Homo sapiens: one gene and its partners. The protein of the gene in region 2 interacts with the protein of the main gene of each other region in a pairwise test. Each region holds a gene or a part of one and is shown on either strand. Other genes may lie near its edges.

Region 1 (10,042 bases), on a different chromosome or scaffold from region 2:
TACAGGTGAGGTCCAGGGTGGGCCGGGTCAGGGCCAAGGGCGGCTCCGGGAGAGAGGGATGAGGCTGCCCTCAGGGCATCTCAGACAGCTAGTGTGGCAGCCCAGACTTCCAAGGGGGAGGTTTTGGGGAGTGGGGAACCCCCAGGTGGGACTTGTTCTCAGGAAGGCGCATCATAGGGTCCCCCAGGTCAAGAGCCCACTGCAGACCTGAGTCCAGTGCCACAGTTCACTTCATTCATAAGCCACGTGGCCTTGGGGAAGTGGGATGACCTCTCTGAGCCTCGATTTCCCCAAATGTAAAAAGTCATCAAAATAATAGTATTGTATACCTCGTGGGAGTTTGGGGAGGGGGAAACAACCTAGGTAAAGTCTGAAGGCTCATAGCCATTAAAATTATGGGGATGCAATAAAGAGGGGAAAGGGTAAGATTTCTCAAGTCAGTACCAATTGTTGTGCCCAGATCAAGGAGAAAGGGCAAAGGGTGGGAAAGACATCGGGCCATGAAAAGATATTGAGAGCTCACTGTGTGTGAGTGTTTAGGGTCAAGCAGGGCAGGCTTCCTGGCAGAGGCGGCATTGGGCTGTCAGCCTGAGACCCTTTCATGCCTGGCCTGCCCTGTCCTGCCCTGCCCTGCCCTGCCCCACCTCCTGCCCCCAGCTGTCTGATCGCCATGGCCCTGAAGAACAGCAAGACAGGCAGCCTGCCTGTGAGCGAGATCTACAGCTTCATGAAGGAGCACTTCCCCTACTTCAAGGTGAGTCCCAAGCTAGGGTAGGGGTGCTGGAGCTGCCCTGGTCTCTTCCTGGTGCTGCCAGAATCCAGGGCTGGCCCTGGGCCAACCCTCTTTGGTTCCCAGTTATGTCTGTACATCTGGTGGTTAGGACATGTGCACACACACTCACACAGAAGAAAGTCAGAAAGAGAGGGGGGCATTTGAACTGGGCTCTGACAGATGAAGAGGAGTTCATTAGGCATCCCAAGGAGAAAAGGGTAGAGGCACCAGACTAGGTACTCAGCACAGATTCAGTACAACATAATGATGCAAAACAACAGAATTGGCAAAAGCCTTCACCTCTGAGCCTCAGTATCCTCATCTGTCAGGGGTGGAGAATCATCCCAAGCTGGCAGGGTCAGTGAGGATCCTGCAGATAAAGGGCCTGGCAGCTTCCAGCATAGGGTTGGCCACTAGTAGTGTTATCCTTGTTAGCATCAAAGCAAAAAGTGGAGCAGGAAGTTAGAGGGTACACCAAGCTGTGGGGTCCCTGGATTGGACAGTGTCCTTAGCAAAAATACTGCAGTACAGTGTGTGTGCACACATGTACACATGTGGTGTGAGATGCATTGTGATATCTGGTTATCTAGCATTTAAAAATAATTTGCTGGTGGTGCACGACTGTAGTCCCAGCTACTTGGGGGGCTGAGGTGGGAAGACTGTTTGATCCCAGGAGGTTGAGGTTGCAGTGAGCCGTGATCATACCACTGTACTCCAGCCTGGGTGATGGAACAAGACCCTGTCACAAAAAAAAAAAAAAAAGTAAATTTGCATTGAATACACTCGATCAGTTATCCATTTATTGGCATCATTCTTCCTTGCTTGCTTCCTGAATGGGAGAGAGAATATGGAAGATCCAGCAGGCCAGGCTGCATCCTCCTATAGTAACAGTTGGCCAGAGCTGAACTGTAGTTCCCCTCTCATCAGGGCATGGCCACACCAGTTGGCCTCAGTCCCCAGCACTCTCTCTTGTCTCTCCAACTTGAGGCTGAGTGTCAGGCACTGTCAAATTACTCCTGCCACCGCGGTGTCCTGCCCCTATAGGCCTGAGTAGGAGATCCCCGGGGTAGGGGGAAGGGCTTACAGGGAGGCCTCTGAATGCCCATGTGTCTTCATAGACGGCCCCCGACGGGTGGAAGAACTCGGTGCGGCACAACCTGTCTCTGAACAAGTGCTTCGAGAAGGTGGAGAACAAGATGAGCGGCTCCTCCCGCAAGGGCTGCCTGTGGGCTCTGAACCTGGCCCGCATCGACAAGATGGAGGAGGAGATGCACAAGTGGAAGAGGAAGGACCTGGCTGCCATCCACCGGAGTATGGCCAACCCTGGTGAGGGCCGGACAGCCCGCAGTGCGCGCACACACACACACACACACACACACACACACGGAAGAGGAAGGACCTGGCCGACATCCACCAGAGCATGGCCAACCCTGGTGAAGCCGATGCATACGCACGCGCACACACACAAATATGCGCACACACACAAATACACGCACACGCACACAGAAGAGGAAGGACCTGGCTGCCATCCACCGGAGCATGGGCAACCCCAGTGAGGCCCAGATGCACACATGCGCGCACACACACAAATGCACTCACACACCTGTGCACACAAATGCACGCACACACGCAGAAGAGGAAGGACCTGGCTGCCATCCACTGGAGCATGGCCAATCCCGGTGAGGCCCAGACAGCTTGCAGCACGCACACACACACAAATGCACACACAGACCAATACACACATGCGTGCACACACACACGCAGAAGAGGAAGGACCTGGCTGGCATCCACTGGAGCATGGCCAACCCCAGTGAGGCCCAGATAGCCCACAGCATGTGCGCACACACACAAATGCACACAAATGCACAAACACACACACACAGAAGAGGAAGGACCTGGCCGCCATCCACCGGAGCGTAGCCAACCCCGGTGAGGCCTGGATGCACACACACACATGTGCGCACACACACGTGGAAGAGGAAGGACCTAGCCACCATCTACTAGAGCATGGCCAACTCTGGTGAGGCCCGGACAGCCCACAGCGCGCACACACACACGCACGCACACACACGTGCGCACACACAAGTGGAAGAGGAAGGACCTGGCCACCATCCACCAGAGCATGGCCAAGAGGCCCGGGCAGCCCCTAGTGTGTGCGCACACGCACACATGCACGCACACATATGCATGCACACACACACCACGCGCCCCTCCTCCCAGCCCAGCCCCAGCTCTGCCTATGCCCTACCCAGTCTCCAACACTTCTCAGCCAGGATGATGGGAAGACAGGCGTCTGGCAAACCTCCCTCCCTCCTATGAAATAGGCCTCCCCCTCCCCAACCCTATCCAGTGGCAGGAGTAGTAGAGGGGCCTGATCAAAAACAGGAAAAGCTGTTGGATCTCACTTGTCATCCATAGTTTCTTGCCCAGAAATGCCAAACTACACAACCATGGGTTACACATTGCTTTCCTACCACATTGTCAGAGATGTTTAAAATAGTAACACTCAGTGTGGGCTAGGATGTGGAACAATAGAGAGCTTCGTATATAATGGATAGGAATTTAAGCTGTTAAACTTTTTGAGGGAAAGCTAATATATCAAACACCTGCAAATGGTACCCATGGATTGGTCCAATTATTCTACTTCTGATGATGTGTACTGTGAAGAGCAAAGATTTGAGCAGAAGGTTTGTGAACAAAGTTATCCATCACAAAATTATTTCTAAGAGTGAAACACAGAAAGCAGTCCAGACATCTCACAATAGGGGTTGGTTAAATAAATAGAATGGCATACCATGCAAGTATTAGAAATGAGAAATATTTTAAAATATTTTTGGAACATAAATAAATGTTAGGCCGGGTGCGGTGGCTCATGCCCATAATCCCAGCACTTTGGGAGGCCAAGGCGGGTGGATCACCTGAGGTCAGGAGTTCAAGACCAGCCTGGCCAACATGGTGAAACCCCATCTCTACTAAAAATACAAAAATTAGCCAGGCATGGTGGCAGGTGCCTGTAATCCCAGCTACTTAGGAGGCTGAGGCAGGAGAATCACTTGAACCCAGGAGGCGGAGGTTGCAGTGACCCGAGATCAAGCCACTGTACTCCAGCCTGGGTGACAGAGCAAGACTCCATCTCAAAAAAAAAAAAAAAAAAGTTCTCAAACAATAAGTGAAAAGGGGCAGGTTATAATCAATATCCACAGCAAGATCATATTTTAAAATACATATATATCCATATTCACTTCCCTCCCAAAAATGTATGTATCTGAGAGAGAGCGAGTGAGAGAATGAGAATAAATATGCTTGTGTGTTTGGGAAGAAATACACCAAAATCTTTACTGTGAATGGAGAGACCATTGATAACTTTTATATTTTTCACATATTTCTGTATTTTCCAAAACTTCTATCCTGTTCCTAATTAGAAAAAGGATTGCATCTGCTTTTAAAAAAAAAATTAATGGATTTGAGGAGGGGCCATCCAAGGGACATATGCATGGGGACTGTGACGTGGAGGCTAATTGTGCCCCAGCCTTCGGAGTATGGCCAGAGTCTGTTGGGTATCACCATGCGGTGTAGGAATGGGGCTAGCAGTGTGGCTTGGGGATGAACAACTCAAGGCAGGGAGAAGGGCTATAGCAGGAGCCAATGGTCCCTCAGTTGAGGGGGTATGACATCGCGCCCACCCCACCGAGAGCTCTGGGGTCTGGCTTGAGACCCAGGGCCAGTACTGACACATATTCGGAGTGAAGTCTTGGGCAAGTTATTTTGCCTTCTACATTCTAAGTGCTCTCATTTCTCAAATGGGTACAACCCAAATAGATCTGGGGACCCTACCAGTCTACTATCAACCCTGTGTTGCACTCAACAAGACATAGCCATTAATCAAAAATAATATGAGAGTAATTTGTCTTTACTTGTTTATATCCAAGAGTGTTAAGGATTTTTAACCCACAGCAACACTTCTTAATGTCTCTTTAGTAGCAGGGAGTGGCTAGGGCCCCTTGCATGTTAATACATTTTGTCCCAGTCTTATGGGATTTGTAATCGCGGCCTTACCTCCTTCTTGCAGGGCTGTTATGAGATTTAAGTGAAGCCCTAGGGTTACAGGGCTGTCCTGTAAGGCACTGTCCCGATGAAAGATGAAAGGGGCTAGTGTTATTATCTGATGACATTTTTTTTTTAAAGGCAGGGTCTTGCTCTATCACCCAGGCTGGAGTACAGTAGTGCAATCATGTCTTACTGCAGCCTCAACCTCCTGGGCTCAAGTGATCCCCCCACCTCAGCCTCCCAAGTAGCTGGTACTACAGGCACACACCACCAAGCCCAGCTCATATTTTTTATTTTTTGTAGAGATGGTAGCTCACTATGTTGTTCAGGCTAATCTTGAACTCTTGGCCTCAAGCTGTCCTCCTGCTTCAGCCTCCCAAAGCACTGGGATTGCATGAGCCCAGCCTTTGATGTCGTCTCTTATTCCTCAAAGATTCTGCACAGTCTGTGATTTTGTTACATTTCCACAACAACCGTGTGCAGAGGGTATGATGTTTTGCTAGATGGGCAGAGATGTTTAAAATAATAAAATATTGACACCCAGCATGGGCTAGGACGCAGAGAAGTATTTAATAGACACCTTCATTTACAATGGGTGGCAATGTAAGTTGTGAGATGAGATGATGCCTGTGTCATTTCATAGGTGAGGAGACAGAGGTTCTGAGTGTCCAAGAGGCTTGCTAAGGTCACACAGGTGGTGACACTGGAATTTGAACCCAGGCCTGGGCTGGGGCCCGGTAACTGCTGGGTGGGTTCTGAGTGACCTCTCCCACTTGCCTGCAGAGGAGTTGGACAAGCTGATCTCCGACCGGCCTGAAAGCTGCCGGCGCCCCGGCAAACCGGGGGAACCAGAGGCCCCCGTGCTGACTCACGCCACCACAGTGGCCGTGGCGCATGGCTGCCTGGCTGTCTCCCAGCTCCCACCCCAGCCACTGATGACCCTGTCCCTGCAGTCAGTCCCCCTGCACCACCAGGTCCAGCCCCAGGCACATCTTGCTCCAGACTCTCCAGCACCAGCCCAGACCCCGCCACTGCACGCCCTGCCGGACCTCAGCCCCAGCCCGCTCCCCCACCCCGCCATGGGAAGGGCTCCTGTAGACTTCATCAACATCAGCACCGACATGAACACTGAGGTGGATGCCCTCGACCCGAGCATCATGGACTTCGCTCTGCAGGGTGAGGCTGGAGGAATGGAGTGATGGGAATGGAATGGGGAGGGGAGAGGCCCGGGGGCCAAAGGGAGTGAGGGAGAGGACTGTACTGCCTGCATTTGCCCCACAGTCTTGTTCCCATAGCAACAACCTTTACAAGTTGAACATCCCTAATCCGGAAATCCAAAATGCTCCAAAATCCAAAAATTTTTGAGCTCCGACAAGACACTCAAATGTCATGCTCGTTGGAGCAGTTCAGATTTCAGATGTTTGGTTGGATTAGGGATGTTCAACCTGTTATAGCCAATGGCAGCCAACAGGGAATGAGCATTTGCTGTATACCGGGCCAAAGCATTCCATAGGCATCACCTGAGGTCACCACCATTCCACATCCCTGTTCTGCCAATGAGGAAACTGAGGCAGAGAGAAGTGAAGTCACTCACCCAAGGTCACCTGGCTAGTAAGTGGCAGAGTCCGGAGTTAAACCTCGGTCTGACCCCAAAGTTTTCATCAGTAACTGCTTCAACTCACATGTGCCAGCCCCATGCCAGGTCACACTCTGACCTGCTGCCTTGCCGCATGATCATCTCCAATAAATGGGACGTGATGAATGAACGAACAAGGGAATTTCAGGTTTCAGTGAAGGCTCAGACTTCATCCATTCACTAGCACAGGTGCAGCTCTTATGTTCCAGCCAAGGGTGGAGACAGCCTCTGCCCTGAGTTCTGTCTCTAGCGAGGGAAATGGACAAGTGGCAAGTCAGCTGCAGCTGTGAAGTGGGTATATTTGCACCTCCCTGCCTCTTTCCCCCTGGATTGTTGTGTAGTTCAACGTGCTGAAGAAAGAGAAACATTGTCTTGTCCCCCTGGCTTTGACCATAATGATACCATGAGAACTAAATGCTTTTCACAAGTCCTCTTGTTTAACCCGTGCCACAGCCTTAGGAGCTGGGTTCACTGATCATTTCCATCTTATTCTGAGGTTCTGAGATGGAAGTGACTTTCCCAAGGACATTCAGTGGGAAGGTGAGGGCCCGGGGCTGCTGCGACTCTGGCCCTTCCATGCTTTTTTTTTTTTTTTTTTTTTTTTGAGGTGGAGTCTCACTCTGTCACCCAGGCTGTAGCGCAGTGGCACAATCTCTGCTCACTGCAGCCTCCAACTCCTGGGTTCAAGTGATTCTTGTGCCTCAGCCTCCCAAGTAGCTGGGATTACAGGTGTGCGCTACCAGCCCAGGCTAATTTTTGTATTTTTAGTAGAGATGGGGTTTTGCCATGTTGGCCAGGCTGGCGTTGAACTCCTGGCCTCAAGTGATCCACCCACCTCGGCCTCCCAAAGTGCTGGGATTACAGGCTTGAGCCACCAGGCCCGGCCCCATGCCCTTTTTCTACAACACATGACTTAGACACCACACATGGTCTCTGCCTCTTCCCTAAGATGGGGGATTCGAACTCAGGTCATTTGATGGGAAGCCAGCTCACCCTAATGCTTTTGTCTTTGAAAGGGAACCTGTGGGAGGAGATGAAGGATGAGGGATTCAGCTTGGACACACTGGGCGCCTTTGCAGACTCCCCGCTTGGCTGTGACCTGGGGGCCTCAGGCCTAACCCCTGCCTCGGGTGGCAGCGACCAGTCCTTCCCAGACTTGCAGGTGACGGGTCTCTACACAGCGTACTCCACTCCGGACAGTGTGGCTGCATCGGGCACCAGCTCCTCCTCCCAGTACCTGGGTGCACAGGGGAACAAGCCTATAGCCCTGCTTTGAGCTGTCAGCCTCACCTGCCCTGGAACCCCGGCACCCGGCTTGGGCAGAGAACTGACTAGAACAGGGTGTTCCCAGAAGGCAGGTCCCTCATTGTCCCCGAAGCCTCTCCTGGACCTGTGGCGAAGTTGCCGGCTGGACAGGGAAGCGGTTCCCCTCAGCAGCCCCTCTCCTTCTCGTGCCTCCCCCTGGAGCTTCCGGAGCAGTTTCTGGGGGCTCTTCCAAGTCAGAAGAATGGAGGAAGGTGGACAAGCAACCCAGCATCCCCCGACCCCTTGACACTCCTCCGAGGCCTGAGCCGCAATGCCTGCCCGTGTTGAGTGAGACTTCTCCATCCTGGATCCTGGCTGCGTGACCTCAGTGACCTGCACCCCATTTTGGGACACCTTGGTGCATTAAGGAAACACCCTGGGGTGAAAGCCCTTGAATTCATCCTCATGGGAAATGGCTGAGTGGATCAAACCTCAGCCGCAGCCTCCGGGGGACAGGCCCAGGGCGGGAAATGGAGCCGGAGAAGCTTGAGCCTCTCTCTTGGACAGGACAAGCTGAACTCTGAAATGGGAGCCGGTCCAGGTGGCCTTCAGCCCCACCTTTCCGATAGTCTGTTAGAATTTTATTAGCGCAGATTCCTGGGCCATGCCGGGTACCGTGACCTTGTGTAAATTTATTTATATTTATTGTGGCCCATCCACCCCACTTCTGCAAACCCATCCCGAGGCCTCTGGAATGGGACTCCTTCTCCCTCCCTACCTCCCAGCCATCCTAACTCCTACAGGCCAGAGAATGACATCTCTAACTGGCTCATAATCCCTTGGCAGCCTGGGGCTACTTTTTAGAACCAGCAAGCACTGTTGATACTGTGAAACATCCCATTTTTTCCGTATTAGAGACCAGATATTTTTCTACCTGTTCATGATTCACATCTCTTCTTGCATGTACCTAAGAGGGGCGGTGCCATTGTTTGGGGGCTTGGGGGGCTTTCAAAGGGGAAAATGCGATGGGAGAGGGAGGAACTGGAGGGGGGTGCTTTTGTACTGGGATTTAAGACACCCCTGATGGAATGAAAGCCAACTGAACCACGTAAAGCTCGAACCACGTGGCAAGTGGTGGACAAAACTTCAACGCATGATATTTATTGGCACTTCCTCACCTCCCTTTGCCCTGCAGCTGTTTTTATGCTTCTTTTTCTCTCCTTGCTAATTACTGACTCCCCAAGTGGCAAGTTCCGCAGATAGCTGGGTTAGAAGAGAGACAGGGGAGTGAGCTAGTCAAATGTGAAAAATGCTCTCCCAGCAAAGCTGAGACAAAATTGGAGAAGCTGCAGCCTCACGCACCATCCCCCTCTTTCCACCAGATGGATGTTGACTTGGTGTCTGGGAGTTCCCGAACCCTAGAGCCAGGATGTTCTGTTTAATCAACAGCTCAGCCAGCTGCCTGGGAGTTTTGGCATTAAGCCCCGCCTTGAAGGGCGAGCTTTAAGTTTTTCCCAGTTCTGGAACTTTCTACCGAGTATCCACCACCCTTAGACACAATCCCAGTGCTACCCGTCTGACCTGCACTGCTCATCTGCTTTGTGTAACATGACCCCTGATAAGATGTTGAAACTGTTATTCACAAAGACTCCGTGTTTGGGCAACATCAAGACTGTAAGTGTAGAATTGAGCAACTGTCTTCTATCAATAAAGGCTGAATGGCAGCTCTGTGGCTCGTGAGAAGGTCAAAGGGAGATAAAGGATAATGACATCACTCACTCACCCCTTACAGGTGAGATCCCATTTATAGATGGGGAAATTGAGGCCCAGAGAGGTGACACCACTCAGAACCAGGCATTCTGACACCAAGTTCCCATCGCACCAGAAGCTGGGGGAAGTTTTTCATGAAGGTTACAATGAGCACCGCCTCCATTTACTGTCCCTGAGACCTGCTGCTTGACAGGCATCATTTCAGGCAGGGATCGTGAACGCCATTTACCACTCAGAGCAGAGGCTTGGAGAGGTAGGGTTGGCTGAGTGTGTGTCCTGGAGCTCAGTGGCACAGCTCAGGTGTGTACCTCATGTCAGAAAAGACAAGATGGAAAGAGACACACCCCTTCCAGCACCTGCTATATGCCAGGCCCTGCACTAGTCACTGCTGTAAATTAGCTCATTTGGTCCTCATAACAGCCCTAGGAAGCATGTCTGATTTGTTACTACACCCATTTCACAGATGAAGAAACTGAGGCTCAGGGGAATAAAGCAGGTGACTTGCTGTCCAAGATATAACAGGCAAAGGATGTGTTAATTAGGAGTCTAACTTTTTTTTATTTTTTGAGATG
Region 2 (10,042 bases):
GAAAGCAAGTGACTCCTCCCGAGAAGAGAGGGAGGAGGCATGGGGCACTACGCCTGTCCTCAAAGCCAGGGCCTGGGGGTCACTCTGGACAAAGGAAGAGAGAGGACAGCAAGATTCATGGGGCCTCTCTGATGCCAGGGTGACCCCAGAACACACCAGAACCAAAAACAAACAAACAAAAACACAGAGACAAGGCTAAACCACCACCTTCTATCTCAGGAGATGAGCCTTACACCAAAATAAGAAGTTATTGTGTAATTGAAAGTCAATCAATGCAATTCATTATATTAACACCCCAATGAAGACAAAAATATGCTGATGCTTACATATGTAAAAAAACGTTTGACAGAATTCAACATCTATTTATCATAGAGACTTCCAGAAAACTAGAAAAAGAAGGGAACTTCCTCAACCTGAAAAAGGGCATCTGTGAAAAACCCACAGCTAACATCACATACTTAGCAGTGACAGACTGACGGCTTTTCCCTTAAGACTGGGAAAAAGGCAAGGATGTCCATTCTTGCCACCCCTGTTCAACATTTCACTGCAAGTGCTAGCCAGTGCAAAAAGGCAAGAAAAAGAAATGAAATTTCTTTTTGTCCATATTGGAAAGAAAGAAATAAAGCAGTTATATTTGCAGGCAACAAGAAGCTCCTAGAACCAAAAAATGAGTTCAGGCTGGGAAGGGTGGCTCACACCTGTAATCCCAGCACTTTGGGAGGCCGAGGCAGGCAGATCACGAGGTCAGGAGATGGAGACCATCCTGGTTAACATGGTGAAACTCCGTCTCTACTAAAAATACAAAAAATTAGCCGGGAGTGGTGGCAGACACCTGTAGTCCCAGCTACTCGGGAGGCTGAGGCAGGAGAATGATGTGAACCTGGGAGGCGGAGCTTGCAGTGAGCCCAGATTGCGCCACTGCACTCCAGCCTGGGCGACAGAGAGAGACTCTGTCTCAAAAAGAAAAAAAAAAAAAAAAGTGAGTTCAGCAAGATTACAGGATACAAGATAAAGAGCCAAAAATCAACCATTTTTTAAATCCTAGAAATGAACAGTTGGAAACAGAAATTTAAAGATCAATGCCAAGAAAACCCACAATGCCATTTACAATAGCTCTCCAAACATGAAATACTTTGATATAAATCTAACAAAACATGTACAGAATTTTGTATAAGTTACAAAATGCTGATGAAAGAAGATCTAAACAAATGGAGAAAACGTACCATGTTCATGGATTGGAAGCCTTAACATAGTAAAGATGGGAATTCTCCCCAAGTTGGTTCAGTGCAAATTAGTCAAAATCTCAGTAGCATTTCTTTGTAGATATAGATAAATTGATCTAAACTTATACAGAAACTTTGAGTTTATATAAATAGTCAACGCAATACTGAAGAATAAAGTGGGAGGAACCATCCTCTTCAATTTTAGACTTACTATAAAGCTATAGTAATTAAGACTATGCTACTTGTAAAGGGATAGGCAGACAGACCAATGGGATGGAATAGGACACTCTGAAATAAACCCACACACATATGGCCAACTGATTTTTGACAAAGGTGTTAAAGCAATCCAATGGAGAAAGGGTAGTCTTTTTAACAAATGAGGCTAGAACAACACATTGTTTCATAAGCAAAAAAAAATGAACCTCAACTTAAACCTTACATTATACAAATGTTAACTTGATAGGAAGCAGATCTAAATGTAAAATGTAAAACTATGGTCAGGCGCGGTGGCTCACGCCTGTAATCCCAGCACTTTGGGAGGCCGAGGTGAGCAGATCACTTGAGGTCAGGCATTCGAGACCAGCCTGGCCAACATGGTAAAACCCTGTCTGTACTGAAAACACAAAAACTAGCCGGGTGTGGTGGTACACACCTGTAATTCCAGCTACTCGGGAGGCTGAGGCAGGAGAATCGCTTGAACCCGGGAGGTGGAGGTTGCAGTGAGCCAAGATGGTGCCACTGCACTCCAGCCTGAGTCACAGAGCAAGACTCCGTCTCAGAAAAAAAAAAAAAAAAAAAAAAAACCCAAAACAAAAGTAAAACTATAAAACTTTTCAAAGAAAACAGGAGAAAATCTTCATAATGTGCAAATAGGCAAAGAGTTCTTAGACATGACATTGAAAGCATGAGCCACAGAAGAAAAATTGATAAGTTGGATTTCATCAAAATTAAAATTTTTTTTTTCTCTGCAAAGGACACTTTTTAGAGAATGAAAAGACACACTAAAGACTGGGGAAAATATTTGCAAGTCACATATCTGACAGGAGACTTGTATCCAGAATACATAAAGAATTCTCAAAACTCAACCATAAGAAAACAACCAACCTAGTTAAAAAAGAAGCAAATGACTTGAAGTGACACCTGACCAGAGCATCTACACTCACATGAAAAGCTGCTACCATCATTAGCTATAAAGAAAATGCAAGTTGCAACCACAATGAGGTACCACCACACATCTATTAGAATGGCCAAAACCAAGAGCACCAGCAGCATCAAATGCTGCTGACGGAGAGGAGCAAGAGGAACTCTTGTATGTTGCTGGTGGGAATGCAAAATGGTGCAACCACTTGGGAAACTGGTGGTTTCTGATAAAGTTAAACATACACTTTCTGTATGAGCCAGCAGCAATTCCACTTGTAGGTATATATCCAAAAGAAAGAAAACATATGTCCTTACAAAAGCCTGCATGTGAAACTTAGAGCTTCTTTATTCATAATCACCCCAAACTGGAAACCATCCAAATGGCCCTCAACTAGTGAATGAATAAACAAACTGTAGTGTAATAGAATATTACTCAGTAACAAAAAAAAGCAACTCGGATTCATGCAGCAACTTGACTGAATCTCAAAGGCACCAGAATGAGTAAAAGAAGCCTGTCTGAAAAGGTCACAATCTGTACGATTCCATTTATACACCACGCTAGTAAAGATGAAACTACAGCAATAGGGAACAGATCAGCAGTTGCCAAGGGCTGGGGATGGGGGAGGTTGTGACTGCCAAGAAATACCACGAGGGGGTTTTCAGGGCAATGCACTGTTCTGTGACCTGATTATACACAAATCTACCCATGTCAAAACTCACAAGGCTGTACACCAAAAAGTTGATTTTACTTTGTGTTAATTTAAGAAGGAAAATAAATGAAAAGTAAACACGGGTAATCGAGTTTTAAATGTAGAGACTCTGGAAAAGCAGATAAGTCGTTATTTTGCATCGGGGCATGGCAGCGAGAACTCGGCAGAGGCTGCAGGGAAACTTCCCCTGCTTGATTCAGTCCAGGTGTCTCATGGATGGATTGATCCACGCCTCTAAAAGCTTGATAGTAACAACGATAACAATAATAAGAGCAAAGGAGGCTGCAGCATCCACCAGTGGAGAGATGCTTGACTCATTCCCTTTTCACAACAGCCCATGACGCATGGCTTGTCCTCCTCTTTATACCAATGGCCAACTGAAGTTCAAAGAACTCTGCAGGCCTGCCTATGGTTGCGTGGCCCGTCTGAGGCTGGCCCGACTCCATCGTGGGGCCGCCTGGGCCCAGAGCAGACGACAGCCCCTCCGGGCCTCCGGCTGCCTCTTACTCACCATCCCTGCTGCCGCTGCTTCGAGAATACTCATGGCCTACCCTGCTGGTCCCAAGAGCCTCCTACATACCGTGGCGGGCGATGAGCGGGAGGTGTGGGCCAGGGAGTGTCTGGTGCTGTCCATCCCCCCGTGGATGAGATAGGCTCCCGCGCTGGAGACGATGGGGCTCCCCCCGACATCCATGGTGATGCCCACCATGCTGTGGGAGGGGACCGCTGGCGGGGACGAGGCTGCCACGGTCACCTGGGCACCGCCTGGGGCCTCGAAGTAAGAAGCCGTGCTGCTGGGGGCGTACATCTGAGGCTCGGGGTTGTAGGTGTAGGCTGTTCGTCTGTTAGAAAGAGAGAAGTCACGCATGGGACGCTGTCCCATTTAAATGCCTTGTCTGAGTTCACAGATATCCAGCCAAACATCACGTAAAAGCTGCAACCCAGAGAGGCCAGACATATGGAGCAATTCGGACGTGGCATATGACACTCAAATGCAGCGCAAGTTCACAGCCACCATGTTGCAAAATCTTTAGGACCACAGGCTGACTTATCAAAAAGTGACCACTTAAAAATTCTAGGCCAGGCGTGGTGGCTCACGCCTGTAATCCCAGCACTTTGGGAGGCTAAGGTGGGAAAATTGCTTGAGGTCAGAAGTTTGAGACCAGCCTGGGCAACATAGAGAGAACCATCTCTACAAAAAATAAAAGATTTAGCCAGGTGTGGTGGTGCGTGCCGGTAGTCCCAGCTACTCAGGAGGCTGAGGTGGGAGGACTGCTTGAGCCCAGGACTTTGAGGTTACAGTGAGCTGTGACTGCACCATTGCACTTTAGCCTGGGCAACAGAGCAAGACCCTATCTCTTAAAAAAAATAAATACAAATAAAACTTAAAATTGTAAGTGGATAAATGGGTCACATGAGGGAGCTCCTGTGTGGAGATGGAGCAGTTCTGTATCTTGATGGTGGTATTGTTACACAAATCTACACATGGGCTAAAAATGCAAAGAAATAGACACGCACGCACATGCAAGGGTACACACATGAACATGCAAAGCCACATGTACTCCACATGCAAGCACACACGCAAAAGCACGTGCATACAGACTGGTAGAACTGAATAAGGCCTGTGGGCTAGTTAACAGTTTTACCCCAATGTCAATTTCCAGGGGTTTTTTTGTTTTGTTTTTTTGAGACAGGGTCTCCTTCTGTAGCCCAGACTTGAGTGCAGTGGCAAAATCATAGCTCACTGCAGCCTCAGCCTCCTGAGCTCAAGTGATCCTCCTGCTTCAGCCTCTGAATATGGGTGTGCACCGCCACAGTAGCTGGGGTGATGGGTGTGCACCGCCACAGTGGCTGGGGTTAGAATCATACAACTCCACCAATCACAACCCTGAAGTCACAGCCAGGTTCTCATGTACAGCCCCTGCACTTGTGAGGGGAGCCATCCAGGCCAAATGGAAACAGACAAGCAGGCGAAAGGACTCACGTCTAAAGTAAAGTGAGCTGCACGGGAGATGCATACTTTCCTACCCCAAGCATCACACAGTTACAGAGCAGAAAACTCTAGACATCCTTGCAACATGGAAAATCAAGTTCTATCAACATTATACAAAGCTGGAGTTTAACAGAGGCGAGGGGAAAACACACAGGGGTGGATGGTTTCTGGATCTCAAAGACTGAGACTTCAGAATGAAGAGTTAGGATTAGCCTTTTTTTTTTTTTTTCCAAGACTATCTTTTCTAAAAGTAAAAAGTACAAAAGTCTGTGATTTCTGAAATCTCCACAGGGTTATGATGTCCTAATCCCTCAGCTCCCACCCCGCTCCTTTTTTTTTTGGACAGGGTGTTGCTCCATCAGTCAGGCGTGATCATAGCTCACTGCAGCCTCCAACTCCTGGGCTCATGCGATCCTCCCACCTTGGCCTCCTGATTACCTGGGAGGGACTCTAGGCACTTGTCACCATGTCTGGCTAATTTTAAAATTTTTTGTAGAGATATTGCCCAGTTTCCTAATAGCATTTTAACAGTATTTAGTGAACACATCGCCAAAAGCATAAGGGAGAGGAATTTGCTTGATGCCTCCCCAGGTGGCAAAGGCTGGAGTCAGGGAGAGGGTTCCGGGTGTGGCCCGCGGGAGAAGCACGCACATGGCTCCATTGGTGTAGACGGCGTCTCCCCCTTCCACGTACTGCACCTGGGCAGGATACACGTGCTGCACCGGCTGCACCTGAAACATCGGATACGCTGCGTTACCGCCAGTCACGCCCTCGTGAGTTGCCTGCAGATTATTCAAGCTAGACGTGTCTTCTATTGCCTTTATGAACATTTAGTACCAAATGACAATGTTCCCGCCCACAGTCGGCACGCCTAGAAAGACACTGAGGAGACAGTAATGTACAGACGACATATTCCAAACGGGCCCACACAGTTCAGGGAGCTGCGACTGATCCCCAGAGCTCTGCTAGCGTGTCTGTGCGCCCTGGCTCCTCTGTATACGTGGGGGCGGGACCAGGAGAATGACAACGCTCCTCCAGTGCAGTGGAAACTAGAGTTGTGGACAGAGGCCCAGCCTTGGCTCACAGGACTGTCCCTGGTTTCTGTTTTTTTTTTTTGTTTGTTTGTTTGTTTTTTTGCGACAGGGTCTCCCTCTGTAGCTCAAGCTGGCGTGCAGGCTGCAGTGCACAGGGGGCTGAGCAGATTAGACTCTACATGGCCCCAACACCCCCCGTGGGTGGCCCTGGTGCCCCTTCCCTGGCAGAGAGGAGGGGAGAGAATGTGATGGTCTGAACAGAGTGGGAAGGAGCGGCATGCCTGGAGAGATGGGGCAATGGGGGGACCCCAGCACACCCCCGCTGCCCTGCCCTCCCCTCTCTGAAACATCAGTTCAGAGCCTCGGCTGACAGGCCCCGAGGGACTCTAGTCCGAGCAGTGGAAGCCAAACGCTTTGCACATGGGACTTCAAACTCTCACCCCAGAGGGCATCTTAGTGGCTGTCTACATCCACTGAATTTTGGGGTGAGAAGATGGAGGGCCACAGAAGTGGGCTTGTTCGGGTGTCATGGTGTCATGGTGACCTTCCTCTTGTGCTTGAAGCTGCAGGATGGGGCTGACCTGCCCCTCCTTGGACCACTGAGCATGGTATGCACTTGTCCAACGCACCACCCCCAGAATCACAAGTTCCAGGGGTTAACATCTGTTGGGTGATGCCCCAGGGGTGGAAGTCAAATGTCGAATTCTGGGGTCCAAGTGAAATGCAGAAGTTACAGAAAGAGCTGGGGCAGGCCCAGCACCAGAAAAGTGGTGGAAGCTTCTGGAATCTCCTCTCCTTGGTGTCTCTGGGGAGTGCCTTGACAGACAGCAGCTAAGACAGAGCCACTGGCCTGAGGCCCTGCGTCCCCGCTGGGCCTGTCTGGAGCCTTTTCCTTCCTGTGATCCTGCAAACCTTCCTAGTTCTCATGGACACAGTCACCTGACAAATGCCTGTGAACAGACTGCCAATCTAGGCAGGACCCTCCTGAAGAGCGGTGCATTCTCTAGGGCCTCAGGGCTCCTTTTAGGGAGGAGCCTGAGTTAACTTTAATTCAGGATTCTGCAGGGCACAGTTGGCAAACTCCGGCCCTGAGGGCCAAATCTGGCCCACTGCCTGTTTTTGTAAATAAAGTTTTATTGGCACACAGCCACACCCATTTGGTTGCATATCATTTATGGCTGCTTTTGCGATACAATGGCAGAATTGAGTGGTTGTTCCAGAGACTGCCTGGACCACAAACCCCCAAAAATGTATAATTTGGCCTTTTCTGGAAACAGTTTGCTAACCATGCTTCTAGAGTGTCCCCAAGCTGATGATCTGTGTTGCTACTTGGCTGGTCAGCCGTGCTTTCAAACTTTGTTCTTAGATAATTGAAATCATAAGAAGCATTTCCTCTGTTGTGCCCGCATCTGAGGGTATGGCACTCACTAGCAGATGGTTCCTCCAGTCCAGAGCCCTTTGTTTCTGTCTGCATTTCTACCTGAGCTCCACCCAGCAGGTGCGGGGTGCTCACTGGTTCCCCAAATGCTTGCTGAATTTCTGAATGAACGAAAGATCACCAGCTTTCTTGGCTTTCTGCAAAACTATCTGCAGTAAATGATTTTTTTAAAATTGCACAGCTTCTGGAAAAGTCTTTTGGCTAAGAAACTGAAGCTTACAACAAGGAACAGCAGCCACAGAAAAGGATGCATCCTTCAGAGATTGTTCTGGATTGCTGAGTGCTAACTGCGCCCCGGTTTGCACGGTGCTGCGGTGCTTGTCATTACCTGCTGGGGTACCTGCTGAACTCTGGGGAGGGAGATCGGCTGCATCTGGGCCCCTTTGGGATTGGAGCTGGCTGCCTGGACCAACACCCTCTAAAAGGGAAGGGAGAGAAGGCCAGTTAGACTTGTCAGAGGTCAGTGCTGAGGATACACACAGAATGTAAGATGCTGTTTGTCTGTTCATGTGCTTTTTATTAAAACATAGGCAGGACTGATCAGAGGCGACGGCGGGGTGATGGTCAGACTTGCACACTCACACCGACCTGGGCAGACACACGGCAGGTACGTGCAGGCACACAAACAATGCACATACATACACAAGTGTGCACATACACTCAGCCCATGCACCACACATATGCACGAATTGTGGGCACACACACACGTATGCACACACACATACACGGAAGCACATGCACCTTCACCCGCCCAGGCAGCTTTGCCTCTGTGGGTCTGTAGTCTGCAGCAAGGTGACACTGATCGTCCCTAGTACAGAGGGGACTGCTGGGGCCCTCTGGATAGCCATCCGCACCACTGCGTGGGAGAGCACTCTGTGGCGCCCCTCGCTTCTGCAGTATAACCCGGACTTGTTTCCATTTTCTGATGAGGTTAATGAAGCCAGAGGGCTCAAGTGCTGCCTCTGGCTACAGAATACTCGAGTCCAGGTGCCCTGTGTCTGGGTCCCTCGCTCTCTGACCCCACTGCTCTCCAGCCTCCTAAGTCAAATCTGCACAGTGTGGCTTTGCTATTTTTCTGGGAGTACCGATTGGCCACACAAAGCTATCAAAATGGGAAGGGTCAAAGTGAACTCGAGTCGAGGGAGGAACAGGAGTGTTTTGTGTGTTTATTGAGAGCTGGGGCTTTCGGAGTCATTGGCTGCAGTGCTGTGATTTCCCGGCATGAACCCTGAATGTCACAGGTAGCAGTGACTGCCATATATACATCACGAGGGGTGATGGGTGAGGACACGCCATCCCCTGTGTTGCAGGAGTGGAGCTAAGGATGAAGATGGTGCTAATAAGGATGCCAGCGCAAGGGCATTCTGATTCCAGGTGAGCTGGGCGCCGTGTGCTTGGAGAATTCACAGGGTCCTGGCAAGTCCTCAGAGAGGGACCACAGTGATGAAACCTGGGACACACATGGTGGCCGTGAGTGGCACTGAGACCTGTCCATGGTGGCTGCTGCAGAGGAAGGCAGAGTCCACCTAGGCCTGGGAGAGCCTGAGAGAGGGGCTTGGCAGGAAGACCTGAGGGCTGACTCCTCTTGGACAATTTCAAGTGGGCACGGAAACATATCAATTAGGCCACAACTGCTGGCAGGGCGACGGCGTCTGATCCTCACCTCAGATGGGCTTCCAAGACGCCCTCCCCACTGCCATATGTGCAAGAAATAAAAGCTAAAGATGTCTGACCATACACACTACATCAAATAAACCGCTTCACTGTCTGCCTTTTTGTTTTTGCGGAATTGTGTTTTTTTGTTTTTGTTTTTTTGTGTTTTTTGGGACGGATTTTTGCTCTTGTCGCCCAGGCTGAAGTGCGATGGCACGATCTCGGCTCACTATAACCTCTGCCTCCTGGGTTCAAGCGATTCTCCTGCCTCAGCTTCCCGAGTAGCTGGGATTACAAGCATGTGCCACAATGCTCGGCTAATTTATTATTATTATTATTTTTTGTATTTAGTAGACACAGGGTTTCACCATGTTACTCAGACTGGTCTCAAACTCCTGACCTCAGGTGATCCACCCACCTTGGCCTCCCAAAGTGCTGGGATTACAGGCATGTGCCACCATGCCTGGCCCTGAATTGTGTGTTTTAAAACCATAATCATTTCTTTTTGCTGTGCTCCTAACTTTTAGATTCCAGATCGAGGTGGTCACACGGCCACAGTGGACCTCTGCACACTGTGATGAGCCTCCAGCCTGTTTCATGTGGCCGGTGCCATTCGCTTTGTATTTCTGTCTTCTTTATGGCTTATTTCATTCCACGGTAGAAATCCAGGAGCAGAGAAAGCCTGAATGTGAAAATTCTCTCTCTGCGAATTTTAAAGAATATGTTCATTCAGGTGCTAGATTCTATTTTGAACAAAATCTTAAGAATTCTAACTCATCTAGGCTGGGCGTGGTGGCTCACGCCTGTAATCCCAGCACTTTGGGAGGCTGAGGCGGGCAGATCACCTGAGG
Region 3 (10,590 bases), on a different chromosome or scaffold from region 2:
CCAGGGAGTCCGGGTGGAGCAAGGCACGCCCCACGCCCCCGAGGAGTGCAGGCAGGGGCGTGGGGTACCCCGCTTCTTGGTCCCAGTAGTTCCAGCAAGCTCGGCATCCCTCCCAGTTAAGCCTCAGCTACAGCTACACTCACTACATTAGTCTGTCTGTCCTGCCCCATACAGCTTGGCTGCCCCGGCCCCCAAACCACCAAACCCAAACTTCCAGCTGCTCTCAGCCTCAAGTCGGGCTTAAAGATTAGGGATTTACGTCCCCTCCCCGCCCCCTAGGGATGGGGCCAGGCAAAGACCCCAGAGGCCTTAGAGAGGATCTCCTTGCCCCACCCTGTGCCACCACCTCATTTTGGTCTCCTCTCTCTGCCCCCTCCCCCAGTCCATCTTCTGCCCTGCTCCGCCCCATCCACAGCCTGCCCCGGCCCCAGGGAGGCTCTGCCAGGAGAAGCCTCCAGGGGGTTAATTTGCTGTCATCTAATTAGCATTTGTTGTACCTGGGGACTCTCTCTGGATAGAGACCTGGGGAAGCAGGGGGGAAGCGGAGGTGCTCTGGGAGGGCCCAGTTCTGTTCCTCCCCAGCCTGACCCGGGCTCCTCCAGGCCTCGGCTCTCATGGTGCAGGGTCCTTTAGCCGGTTTCTGGGGCTGGGAAGACGCGGAGCAATGAAACACTGTGTGTACAAGGTGGGGCTGGGGAGAGGAGGCAGCGATTCTGGTCCTGGGCCCTCGTTTTCAGCCTCCTGGGCTTGAATCTGATGGCAGCTGGGGCTGGTGGCCATGTGGCCTCTGGGGCAAGCCTTGGAGCCCTGGCCCAGCCCCTGCCTAGGTGGTGGGGTGTCTGTGGACCTGTGTTGGGGGGCAGTTCTGGACCCTGACTTGGGCACTGTCCAGAGGTGGGGCAGGGCCTGGCCTCTTACAAGAAGGCCCCCACGCTGGCCCAGTCCTGCAGGTCGGAGGCCAGGGTGGCATCCCCAGCCTCAAAGAGGGGCTCCGGGGGCAGGCAGCCACTGCCGCTCTCGTCCCAGGGGTGCTGCAGGAAGGATGTGGCCAGGAAGGTCTCATCGAAGTCCAGGCTGTCGGCAGCCTGCTCCACCGAAGGCCCCCAGGTGGCAGGGCAGTCGATGTGGCGGCCGTGGATGGTGAGGTCCACGTCCACGTGTGAGGCGGGGCTCAGAGGCGGGCTCAGCTCCAGGGCCTCCAGTGCACCCAGCTCCCCGCCCAGAGTGCCGGCGTCGAAGATGGCCTCCCAGTCAAAGTTGCCTTTGAGGGGTTCCAGCTCACCCTGCTCCTCCGGGGTGGGCAGCAGGGTGCTGGGGGGCCGCGGGACCTTGGCCACCCGCTTGGGCAGCGGCTGTTTGCGCTTATGCCCCAGCCTGCCCTCGCCTGCACCCCAGCCCGCCTCCCCGGTGGCCTCCTCGAACTCCCGCAGCAGCTGCTGGGCCTCGGTATTCACCGTCAGCGGCCCGGCCCGGGGGACAGCGCTGGGCTCCTGCGCGGCCTGGCGGGCAAAGGCTGGGTGGATGTGGACAGGGGGCAGTCGCCGCTTCTTGAAAGCGCCGCTCAGTAGCCGCTCCGCGTACTGGGGGTCAATGCGCCAGAAGCCCCCCTTGCCTGGTTCGTCCTTCTCCCGAGGCACTTTGATGAAGCACTTGTTCAGAGACAGGTTGTGGCGGATTGAATTCTGGGTGCAGGGAGAGAGCAAGAGAGAGAGGAACCGCTAGGTCAGTGGGGACGGGGAGATGAAATGGCACCTGGCGCTGCTGCGCACCCCCCATCTTTTCTCTGGCAGGGGAGAGGAGGGGGGGACAGACACACTGGTCTGCCCAGGCGGCTGCAGCTCTGGGACACCAGCCACAGGGCACTGGGAGCCCGGAGTGCTGTCGGAGGCTTTTGTTCCCTGTTGCCGGGATATCTGCCTGCTCAGTCATCCGAGCTCTGAGCCGCAGGGTGGCTCTCGGTGCCACCCCCGTCGCCTGCCCTCCCTCCCTCACCCTGCCGCTGACAGCCTCTGGCCAAAGCCCTCGGCTCCCCCAGGGCCTGGACCACCGTCTCCCTTTGCCTGGGCCTGGCTGGCCCTCTCTGTGAGTGAGTGGGTCCAGGGAGGGGGCTGGGCAGCCGAGAGTGGAGAGGAAGGGGGAGAGAGAGAGAGAGCGCGCAGGGATGAGAGGTGGGGGATCTGATGACTTTCCTTGTTTGTTGAGCCGGCTGCTGGCCTGGGCCTTCACCCCCCACGGCCCCCTCCCCCCACTCCAGGCTCAGTTGATTATTACCCAGCCAAGAGCTAAGAGCATAGCACTCATTCCTGGGGCCCGTTTCTCGAAGCGCAGCTGCACAGGCTTAGGGTAGGGTGGGGCTGAGGGTCTCTGCTTTTTCGGTGCAGCTGCAAATGACCCTGCTCTAGGGTCAGGGGCATTGGAAATGGCTTGGGACTGCGGTCCTGTGGCCTGCCCGCTTTGGGTGCTTCAGGGAAGAGTCTGGGCGTCCTTGGGGGGCCCCTGACTCCAACTAGCCCTTGATGGTGATGGCTGAAGACTCTTAGGGCACTGCCTACCCAGCCTCAAATCCACCATCCTCCTGCCTTGTCCATTCTTAGGTGCTTAATCTTGTCCAAAGCCTGCTGGGGGACAGGGGTCCTGGGCTGGGACGGCAGGGCAGGTGGGTGGATAATGCCCGGCAGCAAGGCTGGGATGTTTACATGGTGGCCTGGGCCCCTTGGCTGCTCAGTGCCTGGTTCCAGAGACGTGGAACACGAAGTGAGTGTGGTAGGCAGAGCCCCAGTGGAAGGCACCTGGCTCAGGTAATTGTCCCCCCAGGGAGGTTGGCTGACAGCGGGGGTTGGAGGCAGGAAACTGAGCAGAGGTTGAGGTGGGGGGCTGGGACAGCAGCTTTAGGAAGGCCCCTTACCCCCTCCACCCTCCATTGGGACACACCTGGCCCTCACATGCTAAGGCACCCCTTCCATTCCACCCTCCCCAAGCCAACTGCAAAAGGGCAGGACGTAGAGCCTGGCAGGGAGGCCACGTTCCAGTTTCCGTTTCTGACTCCCGGCCCCGACAAACCATCCCGGGGCAGGGCAGTGTCTAGGAATTCTAGGACTTGGGACAAGAATGCGCCTTCAGTTCATCGCTCTCCCCAAGGAGATTCTGTCCACGCAGAGTCTAGCCCTGGTCTTTGGCCTGGGCCTGCTGGATGAATGGCAGGTTATTTCCCCTTGAATCTCAGCCTCTGCACCCCTAAAGCCCTCCACCTCTGGACATTCTCCCTTCTCTCTCTCTCTCTCTCTGGAAGTCAAAGGAGGGGCAGTTGCAAGAACTGGGCTCCTTTGCAGGGCTCCCTTCTGGGGCGCTGGCCGCACCGCAGAGCCTACTTGGCCTGCAGATTTGGGATATGAATCCAGTGCAGCGTGGGGAGCGAGGAGGGAATGGGGAGGGAGCGGCCGCCGCCCGTGCCTCCTCTACCTGCCAGGTGGGATCTGCGTGGCGGAAGTAGCAGAAGTTGTCCGTGATCCACTTGTAGATGGCCGACAGGGTGATCTTGGTGGCCTTGCTGGCCTGCATGGCCATGCAGATGAGCGTGGCATACGAGTAGGGAGGCTTCACGTGCGGATTGGTGGCGTAGTCCACGTCGTCGGGGGGTGGGGCCTGCAGCCCCGGGGGCGCGCTCCGCGACGTGCACGACGACGTGGGCTTGCCCGGCGTGTGTGGCTGCCCCAGGCAGGCGGGGTCGGCCGCCAGGGGGGACCCGGGCGCCGCTGAACCTGGCACCTGGTGGTAGCCGTGGGGGTCGGTGCCCCCCGGGGGCAGGGCGGGGGCCTTGGCGTTGAGAATGGAGAATTCCTGCAGCCACTGCAGGCTGGTCAGGCTGTCATCCAGGGCGTCGGGCTCCTCCAGGCCGCCCTCCGGCCCGGCCTCCTCCGCCGGCCCGGCTCCCGAGAGGCGCAGCCAGCTCTCCGCCATGTCTGCGGGGACTCTCCGAGGGGGCGGTCAGCATCCACGGGCTGAGCCGGGGGTGGCCCGCCGCGCTCTCTGGCCCGCTGAGTCCCGCAGCTCCCGTTACACGGCCTCCCGGACGCGCGCTTCCATCTCGCGACCCCGGGGGCGCCTCCTCCGAATAAGTATGTGGTGCCTGCGAGGACCACGGTGGGAGCTGAGCACTACCCCACCCCCGAGGGGACAGTGTGTGTACGGGGACGCCCTCTCTAACATCATCCCCGCAGCTGGGGAGGATCTTTTAGTGCCGAGGTATGGGAAACAGAAGCAAGGCCCTGGGGTCCCACCCCCATCAGATCTGCCTCCCTCTTCCTTTCCTCTTCGAGGTTTTATTAGCCAAATGAAGAGGGTAGGGGCATCCGAGGCTATCCTTTTCTCCCGAAGAGCAGGAAATCAGGACCCCCTTCCTCCTCGCAACAAATGGAAGTGGGGCGAGAAGTTTGGGAGGGCGGTACGACGGGGCGGGGGCGGTGGAGGTCCTCTGATCCTTGAAAAGGAATATTATGATAGGGGATCATTGGGAAGGAAGGGGACGGAACAGTAACGGGGGGCAGGAGGCGAGTTTCCCCCAGACTTCTCCGATGTCAGTCCCTGGGCCCACCACTTCCGTTAAGGACGAATGAGAGAGCGGGTTGGTACCGTTGCCCACCCTTCCCCCTGGCCTGCAGCCCTCCCCATCCCTTACCTGGCTCAGAGCGCAGCCCGGGCCAGAGGAAGGTTCTGGAAGAAGTTGCTCCCACCCCCTGCGGCTCTCTGCCCCCAGCTCGGGGGCCCTGCCAGCGCCTCTTGCCGCCCCCCCGCCCGACGGCGCTTCTCTGAGCTACCGCGGCCCCGGGACCGGCATTAAGTAGCCGCTCCAAAGGCTTCTCCTGCTGCCATGGCGACGCTCCGCCCCCATAAACAGCTTCCGCCTCTGCCATTGGCCAGCACGTCTCCAAGGAGACCGCGGGCACTTGCCACTCTCCCTGGCGGCAACTCTCTTCGAACTCCCTCCTTCTGCCGCCCTCTCCCGCGCCACCCAACCCCCTACCCGCCGCTAAGTCCCGGCTCGGCTCATTCCCGCCCGAGGGCCCCGCGCTGGGGTCGGAGAAGCGCGCGGCCTGCGGCACCGGGAACCGCTATGGATCCGTTCGTTCTGGGGAACCAAGACTCTCGCCCCCACCCCCTTCCTGTCCCGTACGCTTTGAGGCGTCGACTGCTCCTGGGACGGAGCCTGGGGTTGGGGGGCTAAGGCTGGGAGCGGGCTCAGGCTCGGGAACCGTATCCTTGAGGTTTTCTTTCCTCTCCGCTACGAGTGGCACTTTCTCATGTTTCTGCAGCCTTTCCCTCTCCCCCGACTCTTAGGGTCTTTCTCTGGTGTCCCAGGCAGGTCTGACTTTCCGATGCCACCTGCCGCTTACATCCACAGAGGCGGCAGACACACCAAGGGGGTAGGGTAATCCAGTGTGTCCCAGTAAGCAGCTCCTTCCCCACCCGTATCCTCGAGGTTCCAGGAAGCTGACATTCCAGAGGCTTCTGCAGAAGCGCACTCACTCCTCTGGAGACAGCTGATGAAGCAGAGCCCGTGGGTAAAACTCTGAAGTCATGGACTTGTCAAATTCTCCTAGCGGGGTCATTTGCCCAATTAATTTCACCAACCTTTAAGTCACAGGGATTAAGAGTAGAGGGACTCTGGGGACTGTGTCCCTTCCTCCTCCCTTCCCCTGGCCTCCCTCCTGTCACCAGCTTTCCTGCTCTTTAATTATTGAGGAGCTGCAGGGTTGGACGTTCTCCGGTTTAAGGCGGCTGCAGAGGCAGTGGTGGGGGCTGGGTTGATTACCCCGCCTCTGCCCAGGAGCTGGAGAGCCGGGGTCGGGGAGGCTGGTGCCCAGACCATGAAGAAGGCCCGGCTATGGCGCATCACTCCCCCGCCAACATGCCTTTCCCTAGCCCTTGCCTCTCCCACTCCTCCAACTCCAGATCCTCTTGAGTAAAAGTATTAAAGAGTGCTGGCGAAAGTCAGACAGAAACTTTCACAGATAAGCTCACTTTGCAGTTAGCTCTCCTTCCCTTGTAAACAGTTTTATTCATTTTTAAGAATCATGCAGCAATCCATAAATATTGCATTCTTGATGTCCCCACTGTAGTGTGACCACAAGTGTACTCCAGGGAGAGGGGTACACAGATGGCACAAGCAGTATACACATGCACACACCAGGTGTGCAGACCAAAGCAAAGTGAGCGACCAGCGTGCTAAACTCCAGGTGGGCAGGACCCCAACTCCCAGGTGAGGTGGGCAGGACCCTAACTCCCAGGCCAGCCGGCTTAGAGTGTGGTGGTCTGTGCCCAGGAGATGCCTCAGCGGGGGTAGAAACTCTGGTGGGATGGAGCTGGGCAGAAGGAAAAAAGGGCTCTGTGAGGAAGCCGGGATCACACCACCTGAAGGCAATAGGGAGAGCACAGGCCTAGTGCAGCAGGAAGGAGCCCTGGGTCTCCATAGTTAGGCTGTGCCCTGTGGGAGAAGCCAGGCCCCACCTCTTCTCTTTGGGTGAACTGTTGACGTGACTATGTGACTGTCTCCAGATGAAGGACTGGGGCAAAAGGGTTGGCCACTGACCTGTCCTCATCAGGCTGACTGAGGACCAGCTCCTTGGATGGAGTATTTCTGTGGGCCAGAGAGCTAAATGACAGCCAAGAGAAGGCAGGGGGAGGGAGGAAGAGGAGAAATAGTAACTGAGAAACAAGTAAAGGACATTTCTAACCTAGGTATGCCTTGGACATGGGACTGAGGCCTTGAGGAATCTTTCCGTGCTTCTCCCTAGGAGAGGACTAAGCACCTGCTGCGAGGAAGGACAGGGATCCTCAGGAAGGGGGTCCTGGCCACTGTGGCTACTGTTTACCTGAATCTCCTTCATCTCAGCTCCTTCCTCCCTCCTCCCAGGTAACACCACACTGTGAATACTACCTGCAGGGGACAGGACAGGAGGTGGTCTGTGTGCCACCACCCCAGGGTAAGGGAAGCTCCCTGTCACCTGCTGCTTCTGGGCTCATATTTCAGGGAAATCAGGAAGTGGGGTTATTGCTCAGCTTATGCATCTTAACTATGAAAGGGGCGGGAAGAATGTAGGGGGAAGGAAGGAAAGAACATTAGGTGGGGCCTGAAATGGTAAAGTCTACTGCAGTTTTTCAGAGAGGGTTGGACGACAGGCCCCCCTCTCCATCAGGGCAGGATGTGAGCCACAACCACTAGGCAGTGAGACAGTCACTGCACTCCTGGCCTCTGCAGCCACACAGAAACGAAGGACCCCCTGGGCACCAGGCTCTTTTTGAGGCTGCCTTGGAAACAGCCTTGAATTTTTTTTTTTTTGTTTGAGACAGAGTTTCGATCTTTTCAATCTTGTAGCCCAGGCTGGAGTGCAGTGGCACGATCTTGGCTCACCGCAACCTCCACCTCCTGAGTTCAAGCGATTCTCCTGCCTCAGCCTCCCGAGTAGCTGGGGAGGGCCCTTGAAGTGAAGGCCCTGAGCCCTGATTCCAACCTCTGCTCCCAGCACACTGCTGCTGGCCACATGCTGCTGCCTGAACTTAGCTCAAGGCTCTCCATCACTTCCTTTGGGGACCTGGGCACCAAACTGAGAATCACTGGTCCACATTTCTCTCAACCATTAACAAAAGGGGGTAGAGATGGGGGCAACAGGGACAAGAATGCCACCTCCCAATTGAGTGAGGATGAATTATGGTAATATACGACCACTCCTCACCCAGTGCTTGGCACACAGAGGTGGTCAACACATGTGTTTCTTGAAATGTCACCTTAGGATGGAGTTGCAGGCCTCCCTGAATGCACCTGATCAGGAGAAATGCTCCTTAAGGGAAATCATCTTAACTGGGGGATTCTCAGATTCAAGGGCTCCTTCTTTTTTTTTTTTTTTCTCTGTCGCCCAGGCTGGAGTGCATTGGCGCGATCTCGGCTCACTGCAAGCTCCGCCTCCCGGGTTCAGGCCATTCTCCTGCCTCAGCCTCCCAAGTAGCTGGGACTACAGGCGCCTGCAACCATGCCCAGCTAATTTTTTGTATTTTTAGTAGAGACGGGGTTTCGCCGTGTTAGCCAGGATGGTCTCGATCTCCTGATCTCATGATCCACCCGCCTCGGCCTCCCAAAGTGCTGGGATTACAGGCGTGAGCCACCGCGCCCGGCCAAGAGCTCCTTCTTAACCGCACAGGCATGTGAGGCCCAGAAGACTGGCTCTGCCACCAGAAGGAAGGATTGTTTCCTTCAACCAACCTTTTGGTTGCTACCATTTCTTGTCCTTGAGAAAGGTGCTCCTAGTGCTTGTAGAGGGAAACGCTACGTCCGTGCAGTATGGCTCTCCCTTTCCACAGGAGCGATCCTCCAGCCCTACCCCAAACTGCAGGTTTCCAATTGGTTATGATGTGCCAGAGACCAGGAAATGCCAGAGGGATGTTTGTAACAAAGCTGCCAAACTCTAAGCCTTCTTGTTCTACCCCCTAAGGAGAAAAAAGATGTGTAAGAAATTAGCCCATGGACCCCAGCTCCACCTGAACATCAATATACCGTGAGGACATTCCAGAGTCCCTGCAAAAGGTCTCGTGAGCTGCAGTTCATTGAGTGGCTTTAGGTCACACGGAGAAAGGAGGGTTCCAGTTCCCTCTGAGAGGTGAGGGATTGTGGTTACAGGTTGTAACAGCTGTCACAGGAGGGTAAAAAGTCTCCAGCATCTTGCTGAGGATGCCCAGTAGGCAGCAGCTGAGTGAGGATGGATGGAATGCAGGGCAGGAGGGGAGCCCAAGTGCAGAGGCTGGGGCTCAGACAGCCAAAGGGCCCCACACACAGGGCCTCGTCTCAGAGTCCTCCAGGCTGCTGGATGACAAGCGCCGGCGCTGGGCATTCCGACTGACGGCATTGTCATCAGCCTGCCAGGCACCTGGGGAAGAGAAAATGAACATTACAGGAGCCAGACCTTTGGCCAAATCCAGATGGTGTCTCCAGCAGGGCAGCCCAGGAGCCGGCACGGAAGGAGCAGGATGCGTGTCACCTGAGACTCCGATGACGGTGCGAGCCACAGCACTCGTGTGTGAGAACGGAGAGAAGCAGGTGCTGACAGGTGCAGAGCCTGCTCCTGCCCCCTGGGCTAGGTACAGTCACTGCCACTGTGGCTCCCGGACAGGGAGGGACATGAAAGATGTTCCTTGTTTTGCGAACTTACCCTGGGATCCACTTTTGTATTTTAATTACTTGGTTTTAAAGTTTGCCTATATGTTACAATAGACAGGAAAAGGAAATTGGGCCTTGCTGAGCTATTTTCATTGGGGCAGGAAGAGGTGGGGGGAAGTGAGAAGACTGTTCGTTCTGGCCGAGTGTTAATGTTTTCTGTGGGGGCCCAGGCGGGGCAGGAAAGGACTGGCCACCCAGCAGGGTTCCTGGGATGGAAGGCTGCCTGGAGGGAGGACAGTGTGAGGCTCCAGTCCCCGTCACCTGCCGTTTTCCTCTCCTCCTGCACCTACGCAGCTGTTGAGGTTTGCTACTAGCTGGTGCCATCAGCCCAGCAGACACCAGCCCAAGAGCCTCGGGGTCCCACAGATACCATCACTAAACGCATCCGCTCCCCAAATCTGCTGCTGCCCCCACATGAGGAGTGCCAGCGCCTGTCTGGAAACCCATTCTTGGTGCTTCTCTTTCCCTTGTGCTGTGGATCCAATCCTCCACAGCCTCCTGTGGGCTCACTTCCTGGCCGTGTTGTGACTCCATCTGTAGTCACGCTAACCTGGGCTCCACTCCCAGTTTACAGCAGTGTGACCTTGGGCACATCAGTTTACTGTGGGCCTTGGTTTTCTCACCCATCAGATGGGACATGCGTACTGACCTCACGGGCTTGCTGTGAGGACTAGATGAGAGAATGCGAGCGTTGGTGAGTATCTGACTCCTAGAATAGCCTGTGCTCAGGCTCCTCCAGGCCATCTCGCCTCTCCCCTGGGAGTCCTCTTCATCTCCTGCCCACAGATGAGCTCCTCCCTCCAGTGCCCTCCCTCCAGTGAGGCTAGGGCGCTCCTGCCTTGGGCCTCGGCTGCCTCCACTCTCAGGGTCCCCTGGCTCCCTGGGGTAGGGAAGGCATGTCGTCCTCCGGACCCTGTGGGCCTCCCCAGCCGTGTCTCCCAGTGGCCTCCCCTCACGAGGCATCTCTGGCCGGGGGAGGCCCAGTGTGCTCCTAAGTGCTCCCTGCAGCCTGAACTACTGCTCCACGCACACGTCACATGGCAGAAACCGCTAGGTCCTGGAGCTCCTCCATGGGACAAAGCTCCTCCTGGGCAGGGGCCGTGACTTCTTCACTGTTGCAGTCCAGAGCCCAGCACAACACCTGACCCATAGGAGGACCTGTTCAGCGGACAAGGCCGACCAACTGTAGAGTGTGGCCGTGAGGTTGAGAGAGGCCACTCACAAGTGTCCAGGGTCAGCCTCAGGCCAGCCCAGGACATGAAACCCTTTAATGGCATGTAGAGTCAACAGGTATAAATGGCTTATTTCCATCAATGCCTTGGTGTGCTAATCCACCTCAGGCTCTAGTAACAGTCTCTGGTGCTTGACCCCAGGGGAACAGTGAG

The links.
Region 1: the proteins of RFX2 (region 2) and FOXN4 interact in binary tests that used the Homo sapiens proteins (3 or more experiments, as listed by UniProt).
Region 3: the proteins of RFX2 (region 2) and FOXJ1 interact in binary tests that used the Homo sapiens proteins (3 or more experiments, as listed by UniProt).

The regions. Positions count from the first base shown.
Region 1 is NC_000012.12:109,277,360-109,287,401, reverse strand, and holds the end of FOXN4 (forkhead box protein N4), read left to right. Parts: coding exon 1-5; intron 6-657; coding exon 658-754; intron 755-1,890; coding exon 1,891-2,098; intron 2,099-5,462; coding exon of another isoform or gene 5,463-5,503; exon of another isoform or gene 5,504-5,513; intron 5,514-5,602; coding exon 5,603-5,995; intron 5,996-7,471; coding exon 7,472-7,731; 3' UTR 7,732-9,424; downstream 9,425-10,042. UniProt on the Homo sapiens protein: Transcription factor essential for neural and some non-neural tissues development, such as retina and lung respectively. Binds to an 11-bp consensus sequence containing the invariant tetranucleotide 5'-ACGC-3'.
Region 2 is NC_000019.10:6,036,327-6,046,368, forward strand, and holds part of RFX2 (DNA-binding protein RFX2), read right to left. Parts: intron 7,957-10,042; coding exon 7,867-7,956; intron 5,798-7,866; coding exon 5,718-5,797; intron 3,916-5,717; coding exon 3,654-3,915; intron 1-3,653. UniProt on the Homo sapiens protein: Transcription factor that acts as a key regulator of spermatogenesis. Acts by regulating expression of genes required for the haploid phase during spermiogenesis, such as genes required for cilium assembly and function.
Region 3 is NC_000017.11:76,136,439-76,147,028, forward strand, and holds the start of FOXJ1 (forkhead box protein J1), read right to left. Parts: upstream 4,808-10,590; 5' UTR 4,676-4,807; exon of another isoform or gene 4,127-4,675; 5' UTR 3,958-4,126; coding exon 3,460-3,957; intron 1,683-3,459; coding exon 915-1,682; 3' UTR 1-914. Other genes in the region: E3 ubiquitin ligase RNF157, read right to left, coding at 8,797-8,915. UniProt on the Homo sapiens protein: Transcription factor specifically required for the formation of motile cilia. Acts by activating transcription of genes that mediate assembly of motile cilia, such as CFAP157.